Homo sapiens: one gene and its partners. The protein of the gene in region 1 purifies or fractionates together with the protein of each later gene. This does not show direct contact. Each region holds a gene or a part of one and is shown in the gene's direction. Other genes may lie near its edges.

What was found.
Region 2: the proteins of DBNL (region 1) and PPME1 fractionate together in Homo sapiens (co-fractionation; one large-scale study listed by BioGRID). This does not show direct contact.
Region 3: the proteins of DBNL (region 1) and SH3PXD2B purify together in Homo sapiens (affinity purification with mass spectrometry; one large-scale study listed by BioGRID and IntAct). This does not show direct contact.
Region 4: the proteins of DBNL (region 1) and NEURL4 purify together in Homo sapiens (co-immunoprecipitation; 6 studies listed by BioGRID and IntAct, with this or other methods). This does not show direct contact.
Region 5: the proteins of DBNL (region 1) and ECI2 purify together in Homo sapiens (affinity purification with mass spectrometry; 3 studies listed by BioGRID and IntAct, with this or other methods). This does not show direct contact.
Region 6: the proteins of DBNL (region 1) and MAP7D1 purify together in Homo sapiens (affinity purification with mass spectrometry; one large-scale study listed by BioGRID and IntAct). This does not show direct contact.
Region 7: the proteins of DBNL (region 1) and LRSAM1 fractionate together in Homo sapiens (co-fractionation; one large-scale study listed by BioGRID). This does not show direct contact.

Annotation. Positions count from the first base shown.
Region 1 is NC_000007.14:44,051,202-44,054,701, forward strand, and holds part of DBNL (drebrin-like protein), read left to right. Parts: intron 1-564; exon of another isoform or gene 565-628; coding exon 629-741; intron 742-1,665; coding exon 1,666-1,740; intron 1,741-3,500. UniProt on the Homo sapiens protein: Adapter protein that binds F-actin and DNM1, and thereby plays a role in receptor-mediated endocytosis.
Region 2 is NC_000011.10:74,233,789-74,237,288, forward strand, and holds part of PPME1 (protein phosphatase methylesterase 1), read left to right. Parts: intron 1-2,112; coding exon 2,113-2,178; intron 2,179-3,500. UniProt on the Homo sapiens protein: Demethylates proteins that have been reversibly carboxymethylated. Demethylates PPP2CB (in vitro) and PPP2CA. Binding to PPP2CA displaces the manganese ion and inactivates the enzyme.
Region 3 is NC_000005.10:172,448,026-172,451,525, reverse strand, and holds part of SH3PXD2B (SH3 and PX domain-containing protein 2B), read left to right. Parts: intron 1-3,500. UniProt on the Homo sapiens protein: Adapter protein involved in invadopodia and podosome formation and extracellular matrix degradation. Binds matrix metalloproteinases (ADAMs), NADPH oxidases (NOXs) and phosphoinositides.
Region 4 is NC_000017.11:7,322,836-7,326,335, reverse strand, and holds part of NEURL4 (neuralized-like protein 4), read left to right. Parts: coding exon 1-81; intron 82-622; coding exon 623-695; intron 696-862; coding exon 863-1,127; intron 1,128-1,355; coding exon 1,356-1,537; intron 1,538-1,855; coding exon 1,856-1,941; intron 1,942-2,065; coding exon 2,066-2,228; intron 2,229-2,323; coding exon 2,324-2,522; intron 2,523-2,612; coding exon 2,613-2,689; intron 2,690-2,772; coding exon 2,773-2,851; intron 2,852-3,212; coding exon 3,213-3,388; intron 3,389-3,469; coding exon 3,470-3,500. UniProt on the Homo sapiens protein: Promotes CCP110 ubiquitination and proteasome-dependent degradation. By counteracting accumulation of CP110, maintains normal centriolar homeostasis and preventing formation of ectopic microtubular organizing centers.
Region 5 is NC_000006.12:4,125,576-4,129,075, reverse strand, and holds part of ECI2 (enoyl-CoA delta isomerase 2), read left to right. Parts: intron 1-1,244; coding exon 1,245-1,314; intron 1,315-2,838; coding exon 2,839-2,941; intron 2,942-2,956; exon of another isoform or gene 2,957-3,500. UniProt on the Homo sapiens protein: Able to isomerize both 3-cis and 3-trans double bonds into the 2-trans form in a range of enoyl-CoA species. Has a preference for 3-trans substrates.
Region 6 is NC_000001.11:36,169,660-36,173,159, forward strand, and holds part of MAP7D1 (MAP7 domain-containing protein 1), read left to right. Parts: intron 1-1,311; coding exon 1,312-1,656; intron 1,657-1,853; coding exon 1,854-1,922; intron 1,923-2,804; coding exon 2,805-2,968; intron 2,969-3,500. UniProt on the Homo sapiens protein: Microtubule-stabilizing protein involved in the control of cell motility and neurite outgrowth. Facilitate microtubule stabilization through the maintenance of acetylated stable microtubules.
Region 7 is NC_000009.12:127,500,010-127,503,509, forward strand, and holds the end of LRSAM1 (E3 ubiquitin-protein ligase LRSAM1), read left to right. Parts: intron 1-1,000; coding exon 1,001-1,134; intron 1,135-2,764; coding exon 2,765-2,890; 3' UTR 2,891-3,490; downstream 3,491-3,500.

The DNA of each region.
Region 1 (3,500 bases):
CCTTATAACCTGGAAAAGTTTGTGAGGGCTAAGCCTCAGTGTCAGGGAGAATTGTTTAGAGCTGCCCACTCCTGTGCTCCCCCTGTCCCCATCACCCTCTCTTCTGGAGTCTGAGGACTGAGCCAGTTACGCCACTGCAGGATGTTCAATCTGGTCTGGCCGTCTGGGTGGCCCTGGAACTTGAGCAGACACAGGTGCAGGCAGTGGTGACTCTACAGGCCCTGCTATTCCGGGCCCTTTTGCAACGTTGTGGCAACAATAAAATTTTGACGTAGCCATCCTCCATTTGGAAGTCTGGTGGCTGGTTTGCCGTGGAAATGACCCTGTTTTTATTTCCAGAATTACCTCTGGGTTTAGAGAAGTGGTTTTTAAACGAGTGTGGGTAAAAAAAATTACCTGAGGTACTTGTCAGAATCGCAGACTTCTAGGTCCCACCCAGCTCTCATCAATCAGTTTAGTGAGGGTGGTGCCCAGGACTCTGATTTTAAACATACCCCTAGAAAGATTCTGATACAGGTAGAGGTGAGAAGCCCTGGTTTAGAAGCAGCTCGGCCTCCCTTCATGGTGGGACCAGGGCCAGCAGGGAATGTCAGGGCCACCCCTGACCTTCACTGTGACTCTGCTGCAGAGGGTGGCCTGGAGGAGATGGTGGAGGAGCTCAACAGCGGGAAGGTGATGTACGCCTTCTGCAGAGTGAAGGACCCCAACTCTGGACTGCCCAAATTTGTCCTCATCAACTGGGTATGTGGAGCCTGTTTCATCTAGGTGTGACCCAGGAAACCCCATTGTCTTCTTTCCTGTTTTGACTTGACTTCAGGAACAAAGTGTTTTACTGGCATGACTTAGTAGATCAATAGAACAGCTCTGAGCTGGTGAATGAGCAGAATAGTTGACAGATTCATTGTGGCCCAAAGAATAACTGTGGCTTTGCTATGCAGAATTCACCTTCCAAGCCTAGAGTTCTTCCTGCAAAATGGATTAAAAGCAGTCACAGGGAGTCCTTGCTCCGTGCTCTTGAGGGTGGTTGTTCTGATGGAGTAGAGAGCCTGAGGGAGTGTTTAGGAGCCTGGGAGTACAGGGACAGGGCCTCCTTGATCCCTTGGTGGGGATCAAGAAAACTCTTGAAGGCTGGGTGGGGTGGCTCACACCTGTCATCCTAGAACTTTGGGAGGCCGAGGTGGGTGGACTGCCTGAGCTCAGGAGTTTGAGACCAGCCTGGGCAACATGGTGAAACCCCATCTCTACTAAAATACAAAAAATTAGCTGGGCATGGCAGCGTGCACCTGTAGTCCCAGCTACTCAGGAGGCTGAGGCAAGAGAATTGCTTGAACCCAGGAGGCAGAAGTTGCAGTGAGCCAAGATTGCGCCACTGTACTCCAGCCTGGGCCACAGAGCAAGACTCCATCTCCAAAAAAAAAAAAAAAAAGAAAATTCATGAAATGCCCCCACAGCGAAAGCCGGTAGCCATCCTGCCCAGGGAGAATCCATGAGCCCCTTGGAGGCATGGGAACTTACCTCACCCATGTGATGCAGTCAGAAGAATAGGTTCTGCTTTGGGGGTTGCAGTTTTCTCTTTTCTGGGACACAGGGTAGATGTTGGGTCCCCAGGGAAGGGAAGTGGCTTTGGGGGAGGCCTGGGTCAACCTGGGCATCCTTGTGTTGCAGACAGGCGAGGGCGTGAACGATGTGCGGAAGGGAGCCTGTGCCAGCCACGTCAGCACCATGGCCAGCTTCCTGAAGGTAAGGCCAGGTGAGGCCCGCTTCACTGGGAACAGGCCTCACAGGCTTGAGGTCTCGCAGGTTCCTGGGTGCGAGCAAGTGGGAATCAGAACTGGAGTTGGGAGTGTGCTCATAGCTAATGCTCTCTGCCTGCCTTTGAGGGCATGACCAGAGGCTGCTTCACTCTCGGTCAGTGAGTGCATGGGAGGTCAGGATGTTGCCAGGGCCACCTACAGGCCTGCCTCAGTGGGGCAGGATAAAGGACTATGCTGGAGCTGGTGCCGTGAGAAGGGTGGGCCCTGGTTCTGTTTTGTTTTATGATCCCTCTAAACAGTTTAGTAATACCGTCAGGATTTGGAGGAAGGGGAGAGTGCCCACCATCTTAGCACGCATGTGCCCTTTTGATGCATTCCTTTCCAGCCCCCTCTACATGGAGTTATGTCAGTCCTATAATAGAACCTTTTTAAATTTTAAAAACTATTTGTAACAAAAGCATTTGTTGGTCACTTGTCAGGTAACTTTTTGCATTTCTCTGGCAAAGGAGACTCAGAATTTTGATTTCTCGTTCTGCCAACATTTCTTCAGCTATACCTCAGTTTCCATCTAGGAGCTGATAAGAGAATTCCCAGCTTATCGATATACAGGTTTGAGTATCCTTTATCTGAAATGCTTAGGACCAGAAATGTTTTGGATTTTTTCAGATTTGGGAATGTTTTCAGTTCAGCATCCAAAATCCGAAATTCTCCAGAATCTGAATTTTTTTTTTTTTTTTTTGAGACTGAGTCTCGCTCCGTTGCCCAGGCTGGAGTGCAGTGGCGTGATCTTGGCTCACTGCAAGCTCCGCCTCCCGGGTTCACACCATTCTTCTGCCTCAGCCTCCCGATTAGCTGGGACTGCAGGCACCCGCCACCACGCCCAGCTAATTTTTTGTATTTTTAGTAGAGACGGGGTTTCACTGTGTTAGCCAGGATGGTCTCGATCTCCTGACCTCGTGATTTGCCCGCCTTGGCCTCCCAAAGTGCTAGGATTACAGGCGTGAACCACCACGCCCAGCCCAGAATCTGAGATTTTTTGAGTGCTGACATAATGCTTAAAGGAAATGTTCATTGGAGCAGTTCAGATTTTGGAATTTTAGGTAAGGGATGCTCAACCTGTATAGCAACAGTGAATGACGTCATGGGTCTGGCTTCTTATGAAGAAATCATTGGCTTACTTTTTGTAGAAAACATGCATGGCATTCTTTTATCAGAGTTTTTTTTAATTGTTTTGTTTTTTGTTTGTTTGTTTGTTTTGAGACAGTCTCACTCTGTCACCCAGGCTGGAACGCAGTGGCACGATCTCGGCTCACTGCAACCTCTGCCTCCCAGGTTCAAGTGATTTTCCTGCCTCAGCCTCCTGAGTAGTTGGGATTACAGGTGCCTGCCACCATGCCCGGCTAAGTTTTCTATTTTTAGTAGAGATGGTGTTTCCCTGTGTTGGCCAGGCTGGTCTGGAATCCCTGAGCTCAAGTGATCTGCCCTCTTCAGCTTCCCAAAGTGCTGGGATTACAGGCGAGAGCCACCGCACCTGGCCCAGAGTTTTTATAAATTGATATATAATAGTTGTACATATTTTTTGCATACATGTCATATTTTGATACCTGTATACAATGTATACGATGAATCAGGGTAATTAGCATGTTCATCACCTCAAACATTTATCTTTTCTTTGTGTTGGGAACATTACAATTTTTCTCTTCTAGCTAATTTGAAATACACAAAATTATTGTTAACTATAATTTC
Region 2 (3,500 bases), on another chromosome or scaffold:
TTCAGCCTGAACAACAGAGTGAGACCTTGTCTCGAAACAAAACAAAAAAGTTAGGGGAAACCTGGGCTTTGAGGTCAGACAGATACAAATTTGCATCTTGGTTACACCACTCTGGCTGTTCTGAGGAAAATCAAATAGAAGAAGTGGGGAATGAGGTGTGAAGTTGGTTAGGAGACTGTTATAGTAAAGGAGAGTAATAATGGTAAACATAGACGAGGATGGCAACAGAGGAAGAGAGTCATTTTTTAATGTATTTTCGAGGTAGAACTGACAGGACTGGTTTATGGATTGGATGTTGGGAGAGAGACGGGGAAGGGCAGGAAGGGACTTAAGGATGACTTCTAGGTTTTTAGCCCAAGCAATTGGGTGAATGGTAGAAACAGAAAGAGGTAGATATGGGAGCAAATAAGGGGCAGAGAATCAGTTTTGTTTGGATAAACTCAAATGCTTATTACATATGTAAGTAGAAATGTTAAGTAGGCAGTTGTATATACTAGTTAGAAGAGGCTGAACTAGAGATAAATTGGAGAATCGTCATCACATAGTTAATATTTAAAAGTGAAAGATTGAATGTAAAGACCTAGGAACTTGATATTGATAGGAAAAAGATCCAAGACTGAGTCTTGGGATATTCCACAATATTTAGAGCTTGGGAAGAAGAGGAAGATCCAACAAAGAAACTGAAAAGGCACAGTTGATGAGATAAAAGGAAAACCAGGTGAGTATATTAAGTGTTTGTAGAAGGAGGGAGAGAATAACTGTGTCGGATGCTGCAGAGAGATCAAGTAAGATGAGGACCAAGAAATGACCATTGGAATTGGCATGATAGAGGTGACCTTGACAAAATAAATATCTGAAAATAAATGGGATATAAAAATCATATATAAGTTGGGGAAAGGATGAGAGGTGACAAAGTAGAGAAAGCAAGATAACTCTTTTGAGGAGCTTTGCTGTATAGGAGAGCAGAGAAATGGAGTAATAGGTAGTAGTGAATGTGGCATTGGGAATGTTTTTAAAGGCTGGATAATGGAGTATGCTTGTGACATCCACGAGAGAAAAAAAGTGACACAGAAGAGAGACAGGATAACTGAAAGAAAGAGTATCTTTTCAGAAGCAAGAGGGGATGGGAACTAGTGCCCAAGGTTGGCCTTGATAGGAATAGATATTTCATGTATTAAACAGGCATCAAGGCAGAGTATATTATTACAAGTATTGGTGAATTTGTGGATTCATTTGGTAGTTAAAAGATGAGGTAATAGTTCTGATTGCCTCGGTTTACCATTAAAGTAAGAAATCATGTCATTATCTGAGGAGAGGGGCTTTAAAATTTTGAATGATTTTTTAAACTAAGAAATGAGATTTAAAGAAGTGCTTTCTCCTAGTGGCTTGCTTCAGGCAGTGTTTCCAGTTCACCCTGGGAATGCAGTCATTTTGCTCTGCCTTAGTTGTACTTAGGTGGACAAATGTGAGAAGACTAATTTATTCAGATAGCCTAAGCCCTGTAGCACGGCACACAAGGCCCTGGAGAAGCTGGCGCCTGCCTTCCAATCCTATTCTGTCACGCTCCCCTTTTATCTCCTCCCTGCTTCTCCTTGCACCCAGTTCTCTAAAATCATTATCCTGCCGACTTTCACATCACAGCACCTTTGTACATAATGTGCCCTCTGCCTAGAATGCTCTAACCAACCTCTTTTATTTTCTGGTTAAACTTGTTATCTATACTCCTCAGTTTAGCTGTGACCTCTGGGGAGCTTTCTCTGACCTCCTCATTCATGTTCAAGTGCTTTCTTTGAACCTTGCCTCATTATATTAACATTATATGTGTCTTTTTCTCCCTACCGAATTATGTGCTTTTTGAATACAGGCCTGGCACCTAGTATCCTCTTGATAAATATCTGCAGAACTGAAATGGCTATGATGTTTTTACTTAATTTTTACTTATAAAACCATGTAGCCAGGTGAGTAATAGTGGCAATCTCTATAGTAAGAAACACTGGTGATCACTACTTTTTATTAGGTCTCACATAATCTGTAGAATTATTTATTTGATTCCAATGATGTGATACAATAGATACTGAATAACCTTCTCTCTTCCTTTCTTTTCTTTCCCAGTGTGAAGAGTGGCCAGATTCGAAATCTGGAGTCTGCCCGTGTCTCAATGGTTGGCCAAGTCAAACAGTAGGTCTTACTCTTCCCCCTTGGTCTGGTTAGAGGCGGAAACATGGTGAGGGAATTACAGATTGCTTCTTTTGTCTTACACCAATTCTACCATTCCGGTAAATGCCTTTATTATTTTAAATAATTTTAAAGGTGAGTTCAGTTGGGACAGACATAGATTTTCTTTCGCCTGCCTTCCTTTCTCTCCTTCCTTTCCTTCCCTTTCTTTTTTTTCCTCCTCATTTAATACTGGATTACCTTAGCAAAACTCTGCGTGTTAAAAAGCAAATCCCAGAGCATAGACATTACAAATTATGTTAACCTTAGTGATAGCAGCTGAGTTTCATTCTAGTAACAGTCTCCTTCTAAGCCAAACCTGGCTGTGAGGGAATTATAATAAAAAAGCTCTGGCATAGCCTGAGTGAAAGCCAGATTCTAAGAGTGAGCTAAGATTATTTAGCCCAATTGATCTTTCCTGATAGAATTACATGGCATTCTGGGTATTGCTGTATAGTCACAAAATAAACTTTAGATGAATTGAGAAAATGTTGCCCAACAGAACAGACAGAAGTTAGATGAAAATGATAATGGCTTTGAGTGCTTACTATTTGCCAGGCACTGTGCAAGGTATTTTATATGCACTGTCTCATTTTTAAAACCTTATATTATGGAAAAATTTTGCACATATAAAAGAAGAGTGATACAGTGGATGGACCCCAGTGTTCCCATTGTCCATTTTCAATGGTTATTAACCCATAACCATGTCTCATTTGTTTCATCTGTGCCCCTATGTATTTCCCCTAGTCACAAAATATTTTGAAGCAAATTCCAAACAAATATAATTTCCTCTGCAAGATTTTCATATGATCTAAAAATAAGGGCTCTTTAAACATCATCACGATGACATTATTACACGTAAAAAAATTGGCAATTCTTTAATATCATCAAATATCTAATCAATATTTACATTTCTGATTGTCTCATAAATAATTTTTTACAATTAAAGTCAAAATCAAAATAAGTAGATAGCAATTGGTTGATCCACCTCTCATGCATCTTTTAATCTAAGGTTCCACTTCTGTCTCCCTCTTTTTTTTGATTCCTTGCAATTTATTTCTTGAGGAAACCTTGTTTGCCCCATAGAATTTCCCATGATCTGGATTTGCTGATTGAATTCTCAGGCCATAATTTAACATATTCCTTTGTTCCTTATATTCTGTGTAAATAGTTAAATCTAGAAGCTTCATCGGGTTCAGGTGTTTTGTTTGCAAGAATACTTGATAGGTGATGTTGCGTACTGCCATCAGGAAGTACATAATGTCTGGTTGTCTTTTTTTTTTTTT
Region 3 (3,500 bases), on another chromosome or scaffold:
GATCATTCTTTGTTTCAGGGCTGTCCTGTGGATTGCAGGATGTTTAGCAGCTTCCCTGGCTTCTACCCAGCTAGTTATCCCCCTTCCCAATTGTGACACCCAAAAGGCCTCCAGGCATTGATTGCTGCATGTCCTCTAGGGGGCAGCACCACACACATTCCCACCCCAGCCACTGCGCCATAGACTATAAAGTCAGTTTTTGAGAGTCCTCTTCACTACGCCCCCTAATTTCCCACTACCCCTCTCCCCATTTGCAGCCATCTCGGCCACTACCTGCTCATCACTCACTTGCCTGTGAGGGACAGGGTCACAGGTGCTGTAGATGTCATTGGAGAACTGCACCCGGAGTTCAGGGCTGCCCATCAGGGCTGGGCCACCTGCTCCCTCTGAAATGGTGCCTTCTCCATGATCAGAATGGCGTCCTCTCCAGCCCCAGCCTCAGTCACCCGCAGGCAGAGACATCATCCATGGGCCCAGGGGCAGAGCCACAGGCCAGGTCTGGAGAATGCAGGGCCAGAAGCTCCAGGTGCCTGTGAGATCCTGAGAGGCTGATGACAATGAACCATGATATTGTTTGGAGAGCCTTTCCCTGGAGCCACTGCCCTCTGTTGGAAGCAGGGAGATGAAGATTTGGGGAGCTCCTGCCTTTCTCTGCCAGCATCTTTCCTGCACTAGAGCCCGAGGGCTTGGGGATGAATGGAGAGGGGCTTTTGAGGGTGACATCCTGGGAGACCCTCCCCAGCTAGCTTGTCTTCAGCTTGGGGGGAGGAAGAAGAGCTCCAGGTAGGATTTGTGGGTTTTATTTGGATCACCCCATTTCCCGCACTGGAGAGGGATGTACAGAAGCATTAGTGTCTCGGCAGCAGGAGCCTGGAGATGCTGGCCTGCTCTGTCTCAAGATCTTTAAATGTTAAGAGGAGCAGGATGGTCGGAATATTTATGGCAGCAAGAATAACAGTGGTCAAAGTGTCCTCGGTAACCTGAGCGGGGCACTGGGTCCCTTTCAAATGGGTATATTTTCAATATAGTAATACAATATTCTGCACATATATAGATACATAGAATAAAATAGCTATCTATATCTATATACCTTCCAAGTCTTCACATCTCTATATTTTGCCAATTTGTTTCAAAACTTTTTTGTTTTTATTTTTAAGAAATAAAGCATCGCAGATGCAAACCCCCCGGACGCCCTCCCCGATGCTGCCCCTCCCCCATAAAACCACTATCCTGCATTTGATGTTGATCATTCCCATGCACTTATAAAAAATAGACTAATAGATAGGATTTTTTTTAACAGCTTTCTTGAGGTATAATTTACATACCATAAAATTCACCCATTGTAAGTGTGCAATTCACTTATTTTTAAAGTAAATTTGCAGAGCTATGCAACCGTCACCACAATGCAGTATTATAACATTTCCATCATCCCCAGAAAGATCCCCCACGCCCATTTGCCATCAATCCCCTTCCCACCACAGCCCATGGACCTTTTAATGTTTTTCCCTTTTTAACATTCCCTAAAATCTTGTATTGTCGTGAATGTTTTAAAACTATAAATAAGCACTTTTGAGATCTATGTCGATCCAGCTAGCTCCAGTTCGTTTTAACTGTCGCTTACTATGGCATTGATGAACATGCCCCTGTTTTTTCAAGCTCGTGCCGGGAACTGTTAGGATGTTTCCAGCAGTTGACTTTCTTACAGCTGCCTCCTTGCACAGGGTCCCACGGTCTTGGGGTTTGTGTGTTTTCAACTTTGCACTTACATCCTCAGGGTTCCCTTTGCTCTCTGTTCTTGCTAACACTCCGTATCATCAGACTTTTCAGTCTTTGCCAATCCAATAGGTGCAAAAGTGGTGCTTGTTCACACCAGTGAGGTTGAGCAGCTTTTCATACCTTTATCGGCTATCTGAGTTTCCTCTTCCGTGAATTACCAGTTTTTGTCCTTTGCCTGTTTTTCGATATATTGGGTTATTTGTCTTTTATTGATTGGCGGGATTTATTTATACATTTGGGATACTAATCCTTCAGGTAATTACATTAGTTTTTTGTTTTCCCCTGGAGGAGTCTGCAGATTCAGAGAGGTGGAGGCATGTGCCTGAGGTCACACAGCAAGGAGTGGCTGCGTGGGAATTGGGCTACATGCCCTTGTGTCTGGGAGAAACATAGGGGGATCCTGTGATTCCACCACGGAGCTGACTGACCTTGGATGGGTCACTTAGGCTTCTGGACCCCGGTTTCCCCTTATATGAGATACTGGGGCCATCCCAGGCCCTTCTCTGATCTCACCATTTATTCAGCCCCGACTGAAGAAGTGCAAGCCACCGCCAGCCCTTAGTCATTCTCACCCCAGGAAGCTCTGGGTAGATGGTGCCCCTGGAGTGATGGCTCTGCAGGCTCTGTACTGCCAGCCCTGAAACCTCCCTCTTTGATTTGCCAGGCTCCAGAAGCCTAGGGGTCACTGTGCTGAGCAGCTGAGTTTGGAAGAGTAGATTGCGCCCTTAGTAGGCATTACTGGCATTCTCAGTCCCTTAAGGGGCCTCCAGCAGGTGAGCCCAATGGTCTAGAACAAACCATGGATCTGCTGCCCAAATTAGCTTCATTATCTTCTCCAGCCCCCAGTTTCCTCCCTCTCCTCCTATCCCTGGCACCTGTTTTGTGGGAACACAGAGGGCAGGGCAGCAAAGTTGAGTGGAAAGAACTCGGGTGTTAGAGGTAAACATCTGGGTTCAAGTTCTTCATGGCCTTGGACAACTGGCCGAATGCCCCCCCTTAGTTTTTACATTTGTAAAATAGGTGCAGTGACTTCCTTCTGGGACGATTGTGCAGGCTTTTGGTGATGTATGCACGGAATCTGTGCTCCAGCCCTGCTGCTGGGAAGAATAAAACTGCTAGCACATGTCTTTCCAACCCACCGTTACCTTCATGATGAAAAGACCTGGCTTTGAATTCTCTTCAAGCGCTCCTGAGCGGGGTGACCTTGCACTATGTGAGGATCTGTAAAATGGGAATAGTCATAGTACCTAGCACACAATGCTCAGCCTCATGGGTATAAAAGGCACTCAATAAATCACTTGAACCTGGGAGGTGGAGGTTGCAGTGAGCCGAGATTGCGCCACTTCACTCCAGCCTGGGTGACAAAGGGAGACTCTGTCGGCAAAAATAAAATAAAGGTACTCAATAAATGGTAGTCATGAAAAGTACTATTGATGATAATAATAGTCGTGATCTAAATTTCTGCACCGCTTTCCGGCCTGCTGCCCAGAAGGCACACTATGCAGTTTTCGTGGTCTTTTCATTCAAGAGGCATTCTGGGGGATACCTGCCCCAGGCTGGGCCCATGCTGCTGCTGGGATAGGCCCCCGGGAGCAAGGCAGAGCCATTCCTACCTATTGCACAGGAGAGTTCTTGTCCTCTACTGTGTCTGTGTCACAAGAGTTAGGGCCCTCTTAAGGCCCCTTGGGTAGGTTTTTCTTTAACGACTATTGCTTTCTTTGGAT
Region 4 (3,500 bases), on another chromosome or scaffold:
ATGATGAGCGGCTGTGGAATCCTGACCAATGGCAAGGGCACCCGCCGGGAGTACTGCGAATTCAGTCTGGATGAGTTGCAGGTGAGGGTGGGGCACAGATCCCTGGGCCGCTTTCAGCAGAGCCACAGGTACTCTGTGTCCCTGCCAGGGCACCAAGCAGGGTCTCCTATGTGACCTAGAGGCAGTCCCTGTATCTTCCACCTAAAGGTTCCTTCCTAGAAGCCTGAGTTGCCCAAGAGTTCAGCACTCAGATTTTGGAGTCAGATGGTTGAATTCCTCTTACTGTTTTCCCATTTGTAGTAGCGAACCGGGGCAAGAAGCTTATCCTCTTTGATTGCTCCCCCACCTCCTGCAATCTCTAAAATGAGCCTACGAGTAGTACTTATTCCATAGGCTGAGACTTGTAGAAGCTAATGTCTGTGAGGTGGTTTAACTCAGTGCCTGACTCACGTGGAGCATTGACGAAATGTGGAAATTGTCATGTCTGGAAAACAAGGACCCAGGACCTGTCCTCCAGGGTGGTCTGAGACTCTCACGAATACCTTCTGGAGTTGTTCCTGTGTGGAGTGGGGTGCTGAGCAGGCCTCAGGACTCCTCTAAACTGTTTGTCTTCTTTGATTAGGAGGGTGACCACATTGGCCTCACAAGGAAGTCCAACTCTGCCCTACACTTCTTCATTAATGGTATCGATCAGGGTAAGGGCCGCCCAGAGAGAGCCTCTGGGCCGGGGCTTTCGGTGGGGCTGGGACTGGGGGCTGTACCTCATCCTCCTGCTTCTCTTTGGTGCTTGGCCTCCCTGTGTTTGACTTTCTCCCCTCATTCTCCCTGTCCACTCCCACACCCCCGTACCTTCCTGCCACAGGAGTGGCAACCCCCTTGACGCCCCCAGTGGTGTATGGTGTGGTGGACTTGTACGGGATGGCAGTGAAGGTGACCATCGTCCACAATAACAACCACAGTGACCGTCTCCGCCGAAACAACGCCATCCTGCGGGCGCTGTCCCCCGAGGGTGCTCTCCGCCGTGCTGCCCCTGCCGCCCAGGCAGAACCTGAGCGCCTGCTCTTCCACCCCAACTGTGGGCAGAAGGCAGCCATCACCCACGAGGGACGCACTGCCCTGAGGCCCCAGTATGGCCCATGGGGTGGGGAGAAGCCTGAAGAAGGGATTCTAATGGGGGGGGGGGGGCGGGGCAAGGAAGTGGAAGGCAGAGGGAGCCTGGCGGGGGCAGCTTCCTGGAGGTTGAGCTTTAGTTCTTTGGCTTGGGGCAGTGAGTGTTGGCAGGCATTGCTGGGCTAAGCCTTGGCACATTGAGAGCGTGTGTTGGGGATCTGACTCTCCACTTGCTGTGCCCTCAGTGCCACCGATGACTTCAATCACGGCGTGGTGCTGAGCAGCAGAGCCCTGCGGGATGGAGAGGTGTTCCAGGTGCGCATCGACAAGATGGTGGACAAATGGGCTGGCTCCATTGAAATTGGTGTCACCACCCACAACCCTGCCTACCTCCAGTTGCCCTCCACCATGACCAACTTGCGCTCTGGTGAGCTCCCAGGAAGGGCAGGGACAGGATAGGGTTTTGGGGGGAAGCTATCCCCAAAGCCCTGGCACTTGTTCTGCAGCTCCTTTTTCACTTGTCACTCTTGTGACCACTCATTCAGTGGCTAGAGAGTGTCCCGTGGGCAGGGCTGTGGCTGTCTTGGAAGCTGCAGAGTTTTCTTGTCCTGCTCAGGGAAGAAATCTAGTCATCAAAGAAAAGGCAAGGTGGACTGTGGGCTCGGGAGTCCTGTGGGCGCTGCTGTGGCAAGGAGAGGAGCCCTGCATTTCCCCTCATGTCCCCTCCTGCTCCTTGTCCTCCCAGGGACCTGGATGATGACTGGGAATGGGGTGATGCACAATGGGACGACCATCCTGGATGAATACGGGCACAATCTGGACCGCCTCAAGGTGGGAAAGTGGGTGCGCCGCCTGGCGGCCGCAGCGGGCATCACAAACACCGCGGGGCTGATGCAGGACCAGCCCCGGCAGGAACTCTGCCTGACTCCTCACTCCAGCACCCCCTTCTTCCAAGGCAGGGGACACGGTGGGCGTGGTACGGCGGGAGGACGGGACTCTCCACTTCTTTGTCAATGGGATGACTCAGGGCCCTGCTGCCTGGAACGTGCCCCCGGGCGTCTATGCTGTCGTCGATCTCTATGGCCAGGCGGCCCAGGCCACCATTGTGGACGACGTGGGTGAGGGCCGGGCTGGGCTGGGGCTGGGGGTTAGGGTGGCCTTGGGAGGTCTGAGAGACACCTAGAGACCTGATGGGTGATGTCCACTTTTACAGAGGTGGCTCCAGTTCCTGAACCACTCCCTGAGGGGAACAACCAGGTGTCTCCAAGCTCTCCGTCCTCAGGGGCCGGGGGCTCTGACCTGCGCTTCCATCAGCTGCACGGCAGTAACGCAGTCATCACTAACGGGGGCCGCACCGCCCTCCGCCACAACTGTCGCAGCGAGTTTAATGACGCCATCGTCATCTCCAACCGGTCAGTCTCTCAACTTTCATGTCCCCACCTTCCTCCTGCCCAGCCTCAGCCATGCAAGTAGAGCCTCTCTGATCGCCAGTCTCCTGGCAGGGCCCTGCGGGATGGAGAGCTGTTTGAAATTGTCATTCAGAAGATGGTGGACCGCTGGTCAGGCTCCATTGAGGCTGGTGAGGGCCGTCTGTGTGTGTTGGGGGCTGTTGGATGTCTGTGCCTTGGGGATCGGCCTTGACTTACCCCTGCCTCCTCCCAGGAGTGACTGCTATTCGGCCTGAAGACCTGGAATTCCCCAACACCATGACAGACATTGACTATGACACATGGATGCTGAGGTTGGGCTTCCTGCTTTGGGGACCAGCTTGGGGCTGAGTGGAGCTGGCTGGGATCAGGGAAGCAAGGTTTGGGCCTATGGTGGCTGTGGGTAGTGACAGACCTAGGGGATCTACCTGTCCCCTCCCCTTGAATTCTGGGAAGTCCTGCCCAGGCCCACAGGGGCTCAGTCCTCCTTCATCTTAGGCAGTTCTTGCTTTTTCCTAAGGGGATCCCAGGGACAGAGGAGATAGGATTGGGCCTTACACCCAGATCAAGACACCAGCCCAAGACATTGGAGGGTTCTGACAGACAGGGAGTGGGCAGGGGCCAATGTGAAGTTGAAGTTGGCAGGCTGACTCACCCCTTCTGCCATCCCCCCAGTGGTACAGCCATCATGCAAGACGGTAACACGATGCGCAACAATTATGGGTGTGACCTGGATGCGCTGGGCACAGGTGCACGCATTGGCATGATGCGAACTGCCAAGGGCGACCTGCACTACTTCATCAACGGCCAGGACCAAGGCGCTGCCTGCTCGGGCCTGCCTCCGGGTAAAGGTGACTATGTGGCTTTCAGCCTGCCACCCTCAGCCCAGACCACCTGGCTGTCAGGCTTCTGACCTTCCCTCTCCTCCCCAGAGGTGTATGCGGTAGTCGATCTCTATGGCCA
Region 5 (3,500 bases), on another chromosome or scaffold:
CATCTCTTAATCCTGGTCTCACCAGTTGGAAGGAAGGAACCCTGATAATCCATCTCCTAATCCTGGTCTCACCAGTCGCCCTGCTGTGTGGTGTTATCATAACTATAATAATGATAGAATGAGTTCCTTATCACTTCCCTCAGGAGAAATGCTTAAACGCTTATTCATGTACAGTCATCCCTTGGTATCCGATGGGGATTGGTTCCAGGACCTCCGTGTGGACAACAAAATCCGCGGAACCTGAAGTCCCCCATAAAAAGGCATAATATTTGCATATAACCTCTATATACACTCCCATATACTTTAAATCATCTCTAGAGTTATTATAATACTGAATACAATGTAAATGCTATATTAAATTGTTGTTATACTGTATTGTTTAGGGACTAATGATAAGAGAAAAAGCCTGTACATGTTCAGTATAGATACAGAATTCTTTTCCAGGTATTTTTGATCTGTGATTGGTTGTCCATGGATGTGGAACCCGTGGATACGGAGGGCAGGCTGTTTTATGTAAAGTCCATGTGTCTTTTCCAGTATATTTGTATCTATAAGTATCAGCCCTCTTCCTCATTTCTTTCCCACACTGAAATCTCATCTAAGGTTGAAATTGCACCTGTTTTAAATGCATTAAAAGCTATATAGCTGCTTGTCCAAGATTTTCAGAAATGTTGCTGATTTAAAATTTTGAGCCACCTTCCTTGAATACCATTACAGTGTCTTGAAAATTCCAGCCTTTTGGCAGTCACTAACACTTCCCAGACTGCCAGGGGCTTCCTTGAGGTCACAACAGAGACGTTGCTTTGTAGAAAGTTTTCTCTGACCACCTCCCACTCTGCCCACACTAGATAAGCCTCAGCACCTCCTCTGAGTTCCCTGCTACTTTGTACTTTCCAACCCCCTCCTCATTTGAACATGTTAATTCCAAATTGAACATGTTAAGTCCTCTGTTAATTCCAAAAGCTCAAGGACTATTTCTTTCTTGGTCCCTTTTGGAAAAAAAGTGGTTTATAGCCTGCAGCTCCTGCCATAGCACCAGGTACATAATATGCACCAGGTAACTGTGAAAGGAATAAAAATTCCTTCAGTTATGTTGGTCCACCTTTTTGGTTATAAAATACAACCAAAATAAATGTTAGGCACTTTGCTGAGAGCAAGCTTGCAGCCTGACATTTGTTGAGTCCATTGATTGATGATTCCTGTGTTCAGAGTTCTTTTCTTTTCCTTGTCTTCCCATTACACAGATGTATCATGAAATTATGCGTGCACTTAAAGCTGCCAGCAAGGATGACTCAATCATCACTGTTTTAACAGGTAAGACATTTTCTCAGGCATCCTAATTAAATTTCTATTTTGAGGGGCCTCTTAATAGATAGGAAATTGAGTTAAAAAGCTCTAAGACCTGGAGGCCGAGGCAGGTGGCTCCCGAGGTCAGGAGTTTGAGATGAGCCTGATTAACATGGTGAAACCCCATCTCTGCTAAAAATATAAAAATTAGCCGGGCATGGTGGCACACACCTGTAATCCCAGCTACTCAGGAGGCTGAGGCAGGAGAATCACTTGAACCTGGAAGGCAAAGTTTGCAGTGACCCGAGGTCGCGCCACTGCACTCCAGCTTGGGTAACAGAGTGAGACTCTGTCTCAAAAAAAAAAAAAAAAAAAAAAAAAAAAGGCTCTAAGATCTTTTCCAGTACTGTCATACTCTGATTTATAAATATACAAAAAATGTTTAAAAAAACACAGATACCCACTCCTTCGCAATTACCCAACATCAATTAAGACACATATGTCCACCAAAAGACTTTTACAGGAGCAGACATGGTAACCTGATTTATAACGGCCAAAACCAGAAAACAAATGTTCAAAAACACATGGATGAATAAACAAATTGTTGACTATTTGTACAATGGAATACTCAGCTATAAAATGGAATAAATGATATACACAAGAATGTGGATGCATCTTTAAAACACAGTTCAGCAAAATAAAGACAGGAGTGTACATACTGTATGAGTCCATTTGTAGAAAGTTCTACAGTAGACAAAAGTTCTTCTCTGTGGAAATTGAAGTCAGAAAGTGATTGCCTTGGAGCAGGTGGGGTGGGATAGCTAGGAAGGAGCCTACGGGAAACTTTTGGGGTGATGGAGATGTTCTGTATCTTGTTTTGGATGGTGATCTTGTGGGTATTTAAAATTATTAAAACTCATCTAAATGAACATTTAAAAACTGGTTGTTTTATTGTATATAAATTGTACTTTAATTAAACACACACACTCAGAAACATACTTTCAGTGGCTCTTAGAATAAAGAAAAAACTTCCTCATGGGATCTACAAAGCACTGTCAGGTCTATTCTGCCAGTCCTCATCCTGCACCGACTTCCCCCTGGCTTTCCCTGAGTCAGCTACAGTGGCTCTTACTTCATCTACAGTGGGGATAACCTCTCCAAAGAGCCTTTGCACAGGCTGTTCCTTTGTGTAAACTGTTCTTCCCAGCCCTCTTTTTCTAGCCCACCTGGCCTCTCCTTCAGATCTCAATTCAGTTGTCGCTTCCTTAGGAAAGTTCTTTCCTGAACTCCCTGATTAGACCAACCCTCCTGGTACATACCCTCATTTCATGACGCACCACTCCTCTATTTCAACAGTAGCATTAGCTACATTTATCGGTGTGTTTTTATAGATCAGTGTCCAGCGTACTCACTAGTTTGTAAGTTAGGGCAGGAACCATTGCTCGTTCTCCAATGTATTTCCCTTGCCTAACCATAGAGTTTGGCATGCAGTAGATACTCAAGAATTATAGGATGATTGAATGAGGGATCTGTTGATTTTCTTACTTATAGGAAATGGTGACTATTACAGTAGTGGGAATGATCTGACTAACTTCACTGATATTCCCCCTGGTGGAGTAGAGGAGAAAGCTAAAAATAATGCCGTTTTACTGAGGTAAGAGTTACTGACCTTTGTCTGATCCCAGAGGGCCCGTTCTTAGTCATCAAAGTGGTATTTAGTTGAGCAAAAGTGCAATATCTGCTTCTCTGTGTCAGTGCAGTTAATTGTGACTTTGGACAAGCATATTTCTCTAAACTGCCTCCATCCATAGGTGGGCATTCATTCTTTCTCTTTGACCTCTGTTACCTGTTCATCCTGCTGGTCTCATGAGATTTGACTGGAAAACATAAAAGTGAGCTATAGTTGTAAACAAAATTATCTTGCACTGAGGCAGAGGAATTTAGCAAATTCTCATCCAGCCAGAGGAATGGGAGATTTCCATGAACGCTGAAGGTAGGAGACTCGGAGGAGTCTTGTAAACACAGGAGGAGGTCATGAAGGCTTTTCTCTTTATTCCTGCCAAATCTGTAATTCCCACTTGTTGTGATATTGCAGCATGTGCTCAGTCACCCAACCTAATCTCTAAGACTGCGGCTGGTTTACAGCCCTGAACTCACTGTCCAGAATACAAGATTCAAACCAGGGTTGACCCATAGGTCTCACTGGTTGGTCT
Region 6 (3,500 bases), on another chromosome or scaffold:
TGCCTGGATGGTAGCAGCAGATGGCACCAGGGCTCAACATACAGAAGCTTCTGTTTGGGAGACCAGGAGGCTTCATAAGACCAACAGGGAGTGCTGTTTGCTGGCTGGCATGTGGATAGTGCCAGGCACCTTGCTGACATTCCCTACTAGCTTGGGCTTGTTATCCCCATTTTACAGGTATCAAAACTGAGGCTGAGCCAGGCATGGGCCTGTAATCCCAGCTACTTGGGAGACTGAGGCAGAAGGATCTCTTGAACTCAGGAGTTTGAATCCAGCCTGGGCCACATAGCAAGACCCTATCTCTTAAAAAATAAAAATTTAAAAAAAGAGACTTAAAGGAACTAACTAGACCCTTGAAAAATTCACTAGCAGCAAGTAGACTTGGGGGGAAACAAAACAAAACAAAACAAAAAAACCTGAGGCTGAGAGAGGTTGACTGGCTTGTCCATGGTTGTCTGCTGGGGAAACAAGCCCTCTCTTCCCATCTTCCTCATCTGACTGACTCTGAAGCCTGTCTCTCAATTGCCCCACATGTGTATATGTCAAATCGTGTGGCTCCCTTACTTCACTTCGATGTCTTTTACAGGATTCCTACAATAGTCATGTCTTAAAAGCAGAAATTTCGGTGTGGCTTGGGGAAAAAAGATTATAAAGTGGACGTAGCTTGTTGCCAATGGAATCTTCACAGCAAAGCATTCCACTAGAGCCCATACTTACGTCCTTCCTCTTGGTCAGTCCCATGTGCCCAGCACTGGCACCCTCTGTGAACAGACCTTGGGTTGGGCACAGTCACCCAGAAGTAAAGCAGAAAGGAGAGGGAGGCAGACATGGAAACAATCAGTGCATTTGGTGCACGAATAAGTGCTACAAGCTTGTTCTCAGCTTTTCCAACACACCCTGCTCCATTCTGCCCCTTCGCATATACTCTTCTCTGCCAACACCTCTCCTCCTTGCTTTGCTGACTCCAGCTTATCCTTCGGATCTCAGCTTGGTTGTTACTTCTTCAGCAAGCCCTCCCCATATAGGTTAACTATCTCTGCTTTGCTGCCCCAGACATAGTATTTATTCTCTACTGTAGTTGCCTAGCTATTTGTCTGTCTGCCCTGCTAGAGGGTAAGCGCCACAGAGGCAGGGATCATGGCTATTTTCTCACCATTATATCATGAGTATCTGGAACAGGGCCCGGCACATAGAAATAACTCAAACATAAGTGAATGAAGAAGTCGGTTGAACAAGGGAGAGGGCCACATATGGGGCTGATGGCACAGATGAGCAATCTGACCTCTCTCCTCTCTTGTGTTGGTCTTTCAGCTGTGGTCGCCAGGACCCCCCCAGAGCCAAGACCTTCTCCAGAAGGTGACCCTTCCCCCCCACCACCACCAATGTCAGCCCTGGTCCCCGACACTCCCCCGGACACCCCTCCTGCCATGAAGAATGCCACTAGCTCTAAGCAGCTCCCACTGGAACCAGAGAGCCCCTCAGGGCAGGTCGGGCCTAGGCCAGCCCCCCCGCAGGAAGAGTCCCCTTCCTCTGAAGCAAAGAGCAGAGGACCCACCCCACCAGCCATGGGCCCACGGGATGCCAGACCTCCTCGAAGGAGCAGCCAGCCATCTCCAACAGCAGTGCCAGCCTCCGACAGCCCTCCCACCAAGCAAGGTGTGTGTAATGACCCCGGCCTGGGCCTAAACCTCTTGGCTCAGGGTCCTGGCCCTGGATCATGCCAACTGAAAGAGTCCTGTTTGCCCTAGAGGAGATAAAGAAAGGATGGGGTGAGGCCCGGAGGGAGGGATCTGAGGCTGACTCCTCTTTGGGGACAGCCTTTTGACCTGTCTGTTCTTGTTCCCTCTGCTCAGAGGTGAAGAAGGCAGGAGAGAGACACAAGCTGGCAAAGGAGCGGCGAGAAGAGCGGGCCAAGTACCTGGGTGAGTGAGCAGGAAGCCTCATCATCTTCTTCATCGTCATCATCAGCATCCTATTAATAACACCAACAGGCTGGGGCGCAGTGGCTCACGCCTGTAATCCCAGCACTTTGGGAGGCCGAGGCGGGCGAATCACCTGAGGTCAGGAGTTTGAGACTAGCCTGACCAATGTGGAGAAACCCTGTCTCTACTAAAAATACAAAAAATTAGCCAGGCATGGTGGCACATCCCTGTAATCCCAGCTACTCGGGAGACTGAGATAGGAGAACTGCTTGAACCTGGGAGGCGGAGGTTGTGGTGAGCCGAGATTGTGCCATTGCACTCCAGTCTGGGCAACAAGAGCAAAACTCCGTCTCAAAAAAAAAAAAAAAAAAAAAAAACCAACACTTCTGCAACACTTAATTATGTGCACTGTGCTAAGAGCAGGACACACATCTAATTTAATCCTCAACCCATTTTGAGGAGGAAACAGAGGCTCAGAGAGATGAAATCATTTGCTTAAGCCACACAGCTAGTAGAGTAGCTGACATTCAGACCCAGAAGCCTCCTGCCACCCCAAATCCCATGCTCTTAATCACAGTATGTGGACATCTGTCTGGTAGGCCCCCCAGGTCAGATGGGGATCTTGCACTCAAGCATTCATTTCTCCTTCAGCCCTGAGAGCCCATAAGGCCAATGGAGGAGAAATAGGCCTCTCCTGAGTCCTGTCTTCAGTAAGCCTCTCAATTTGAGGGGGTTGTCTCAGACTGAAAGCTCCACCTAAGCAGGCGGGAGAAAGACCCACCCAGGGCATGGGTAGCAGGGCTGGCCACTTGGAGGAAATGTCCTTGGCCCAGGCCTTCTGCAGAACCCTTCACACACGCCACTGGGCTCCTTTGTCCACAGCGGCCAAGAAGGCAGTGTGGCTGGAGAAGGAGGAGAAGGCCAAGGCGCTGCGGGAGAAGCAGCTCCAGGAGCGCCGGCGCCGGCTGGAGGAGCAACGTCTTAAAGCCGAGCAACGCCGTGCAGCCCTGGAGGAACGGCAGCGGCAGAAGCTCGAGAAAAACAAGGTGCGGGATGGGTCTCCGTGAATCCATGTACACGTGTGCTCACCGTCTGCATACTGGTGCAGTGTGTACACACATCCATGTTCACGGCTCTGCCTTATCTGTGTCTATGTGGTCCTATTTGTGTTCACATCTACAGTTGTGTCCCTGTGTTAGAATATCTGGGCACCTGTACAACTGCAGGCACATTTGCTTCTGAATGTGCCACTGTAGGCCCCTGTAACTGTTTACTGTCAGTACCTGTGTTCGTACATGTACCCCATGTGTCTGTATGTATGCAGGTATGCATCTGTGTGAGCGTGCCTAGCTCTGTGACATGGGTAAAGCCCTAGCTTGAGTGCTGGTGAGGAAATGAAGGAAATGGCCACCTGGCCCTACCTGGGAGGGCCTCAGGCTAGAGGGAACACATAGCCCCAAGGTCAGGACCCTCAGTGCCTGAGATGTGGCCTTGCCTGGGAGCCCCAGGTAGGGGGAGTCCACCCAATCCTCAGAGAATCAACTCATGCACTCAGGAAATGACTCAGGAACAGTGAAA
Region 7 (3,500 bases), on another chromosome or scaffold:
GGAAGGGAACGAGGGATAGAGTCAAGGAAGTGGGTGGCTCACGTTGCATGATAGAAAAAGAGACTTAGCAGCCGGGCACGTTGGCTCACGCCTGTAATCCCAGCGCTCTGGGAGGCTGAGGTGGGCAGATCACCTGAAGTCAAAAGCTTGAGACCAGCCTGGCCAACATGGTGAAACCCCACCTCTACTAAAGATACAAAAATTAGCCTGTCGTGATAGTGGGCACCTGTAATCCCAGCTACTCGGGAGGCTGAGGAAGGAGAATTGCTTGAACCTGGGAGGCAGAGGTTGCAGTGAGCCGAGATCGCGCCACTGAACTCCAGCCTGGGTGACAGAGCGAGACTGTCTCAAAAAAAAAAAAAAAAAGAGACTTAGCATTTTGTAAGGGCTGCTTCTGATGTCTTAGCAGGGGATGCTGACTCCAGGGCAGAGCAGCCAGCATGCTGGGGACTCTGTGGGGCTGGGGGCAGGGGAACAGCCTTGCGGGGGGCCTCTCATTCTGCTCCCCTGGGTCACCTGATGGGCAGCAGCCCATCCTGTCTCCTGGGCAACCAGGTGGAGAAGCCAAGAGCTGGCCCTTCACTGAGAGCTCCTGCCCCAGGGATCTGCAGCTGCATCACCAGATGGCCACATGGCCCTGGGTTGAGTGACTCCCCGTCTCTGAGCCTCAAATGTCTCATCTCTGAAAGTGCCAAGCCCTACTTGCAGGGTGGCTATGAAGCGTCCCGGGGACATTAGAGATCAGAGGACCCACTTAACAAGCGCTGCGGCCATCCCTGCAGAGAGAGACTTCACTCCCATTCTGCAGATGGGAAATGAGGCTCAGAGAAGAGAAGAAGAGAGTGTGTGGCAAGGAGAGCACTTCCCTCAGATCTGAGAGCAGAGGCTCCCCCACCCTCCAGCTCACTCACCATGGGGATGGGCAGGGCCACAATGAGCCCCCAGGGGTTAGGGTCAGCGGAGATGACCCTGGCTCAGTCTGTCTGTCTGGTCCCCACAGAGCTGAAACCACCAATGGGTGAGGTCGTCACCCCTACGGCCCCCCAGGAGCCTCCTGAGTCTGTGAGGCCATCCGCTCCCCCTGCAGAGCTGGAGGTGCAGGCCTCAGAGTGTGTCGTGTGCCTGGAACGGGAGGTAAGTCCGGGGCCCTCCCCACCCGCCTGCCCTGCCTGTGGCCACCCTCCTCAAATTCTGCAGGTACAGGGTTGTCTCTGAACGTGTTTTCTCCAGTTCTCTAAGTAGACTGTGCTCATCTAGAAAGAAGGCAGGAAATAAAGATGACCCCTGGTCCCATGACCCAAATATGAGCTGCGCTCACATCATTTTCCGGACCTTTTTCTTTTTGTTCCTACTTAATAAATACATTAGGAAAAAATTTCCCAAATCATGAAATATCAACAACATGATTTACCCTGCAGAGGCTTTAGAAAATCATCTTTTGGCCAGGCATGGTGGCTCACGCCTGTAATCCCAGCACTTTTGGAGGCCAAGGCAGGTGGATCACCTGAGGTCAGGAGTTTGAGGCCAGCCTGGCCAACATGGTAAAACTCCATCTCTACTAAAAATACAAAAATCAGCCAGGCGTGGTGGTGGGCGCCTGTAAGCCCAGATACTTGGGAGGCTGAGGCAGGAGAATCGCTTGAACCCGGGAGGCAGAGATTGCAGTGAGCCAAGATCCCACCACTGCACTCCAGCCTGGCAGACAGATCGAGATTCCATCTCAAAAAAAAGAAAAAATCATCTTTTAAAAATTCATTAACACTTACTCTAAAAATTACACAGAGCAGTGAATGAAATACAAATCCTCCTTTGCCTCCACTGAGGGATCCTACTTAGAAAAGCAGCCATGTTTGCAGTTTGATGATTCCAGGGTCTCCCGTTGACCTGACTCATGCCATGATATGGATGGACCTATTGGTTCCAAATATAATCCCTGTTCTGGGGCCCTTGGCATTCCAGACAGCTTTGAGCGGAGCTTGGATCAGTTCCTGAAAGCAGGAGATGCTGAGGCAAAGTGTGGTCCTGAGTCAGTGGCTGCTGCTCCGGGTTGGGATTGTTTGTAGACTGAGGAGTTCAGGGCCTGGGCAAGTGCATCAACAAGAAAGAAGCCTGAACACCCTGCGTGCCCTCCGGCAGGGGCCGGCGGAATAGGCCTCCGTCGCCTGTCCAGAGCGCAGGAATATAATCCCCAGTTTTATTTAAGAAAGAATCAGTTGGGGCATTTATATGGGTATTTATATTTTTTACAAACTATAGAGAAATAGACAGCAAACTGCTAACAGAAGGCCTAGGTTACCTGTTTCGGCCGTGCCTGTTCTGTTTCTGTGGTGGTCAAATGCCCGAAGGCCCCACTATCAGGCGTTTATGGTAAAGATGCTAAAGAATAATGAAGGGGGCCGGCATGGTGGCTCACGCCTGTAATCCCAGCACTTTGGGAGGCCGAGGCGGGCAGATCACTTGGGGTCAGGAGTTCGAGACTAGCCTGACCAACATGGTGAAACCCCATCTCTACTAAAAATACAAAAAATTTAGCCAGGTATGGTGGTGCACGCCTGTAGTCCCAGCTACTTGGGAGGCTGAGGCAGGAGAATCACTTAAACCCGGGAGGCTGAGGTTGCAGTGAGCTGAGATCCCACCACTGCACTCCAGCCTGGGCAACAGAGTGAGACTCTGTCTCAAAAAAAAAAAAAAAAAAAAAAAAGACGGGCCTGGGACTCCTGGAACCCGGTAGGGCCAGCCACATGCTCCCGCTCTCCCTCCCCAGGCCCAGATGATCTTCCTCAACTGTGGCCACGTCTGCTGCTGCCAGCAGTGCTGCCAGCCACTGCGCACCTGCCCGCTGTGCCGCCAGGACATCGCCCAGCGCCTCCGCATCTACCACAGCAGCTGAGTGCTGCCCGCCCACCTGGGCCTGGTCCTAGCCCTGCCTCGGCCACTGTGAGCCCCGGGCTCCTGCTCAGCCTTGTGCCAGCCAGACTCGTATGAGGCTCCCCCCTGCCCTGGGCCCCTTCCCCACTGCCCAGGAGCCCCCATCCTAAGCTCCAAGCATGTCTGGGCCAGGCAGAGGTGCTCCTCATCCATGACACCACCAGTCTGAATGGTCCTGGGGGCTGGGGCTGGAGAGGCCGCTGCACCACCACCCGAGCCTGGGAGCCAGCGTCCCAGCCTAATCACGGATCTGCTGCCTCCCAGCTGTCTTGACTGAAGGCCACCGCCCCTGCAGGAGCTTGGGTCCTCATCTGGGGGCCATGCACAGGCCCGTCCCACCCTGCATGTGGGAAGGGAGCAGGAGGGCCTGGCTGGGTGAGGGGAGGCCTTCCTGGGAAGGCGTGTGGTGCAGGCCTGTGCTCACAGTGGCACCAGCAACCCTGGGTCTCCCTCTCTGCTGCTCCCCAGAACCCCGGGGCCCTCCTGCTCTCCACAACTGTCCCTCCTTACCCCATGTAGCTCGATCCGAAGCAGGAGTGTCAATAAACCTGTCTTCAGTGCGCTTCTGGCCT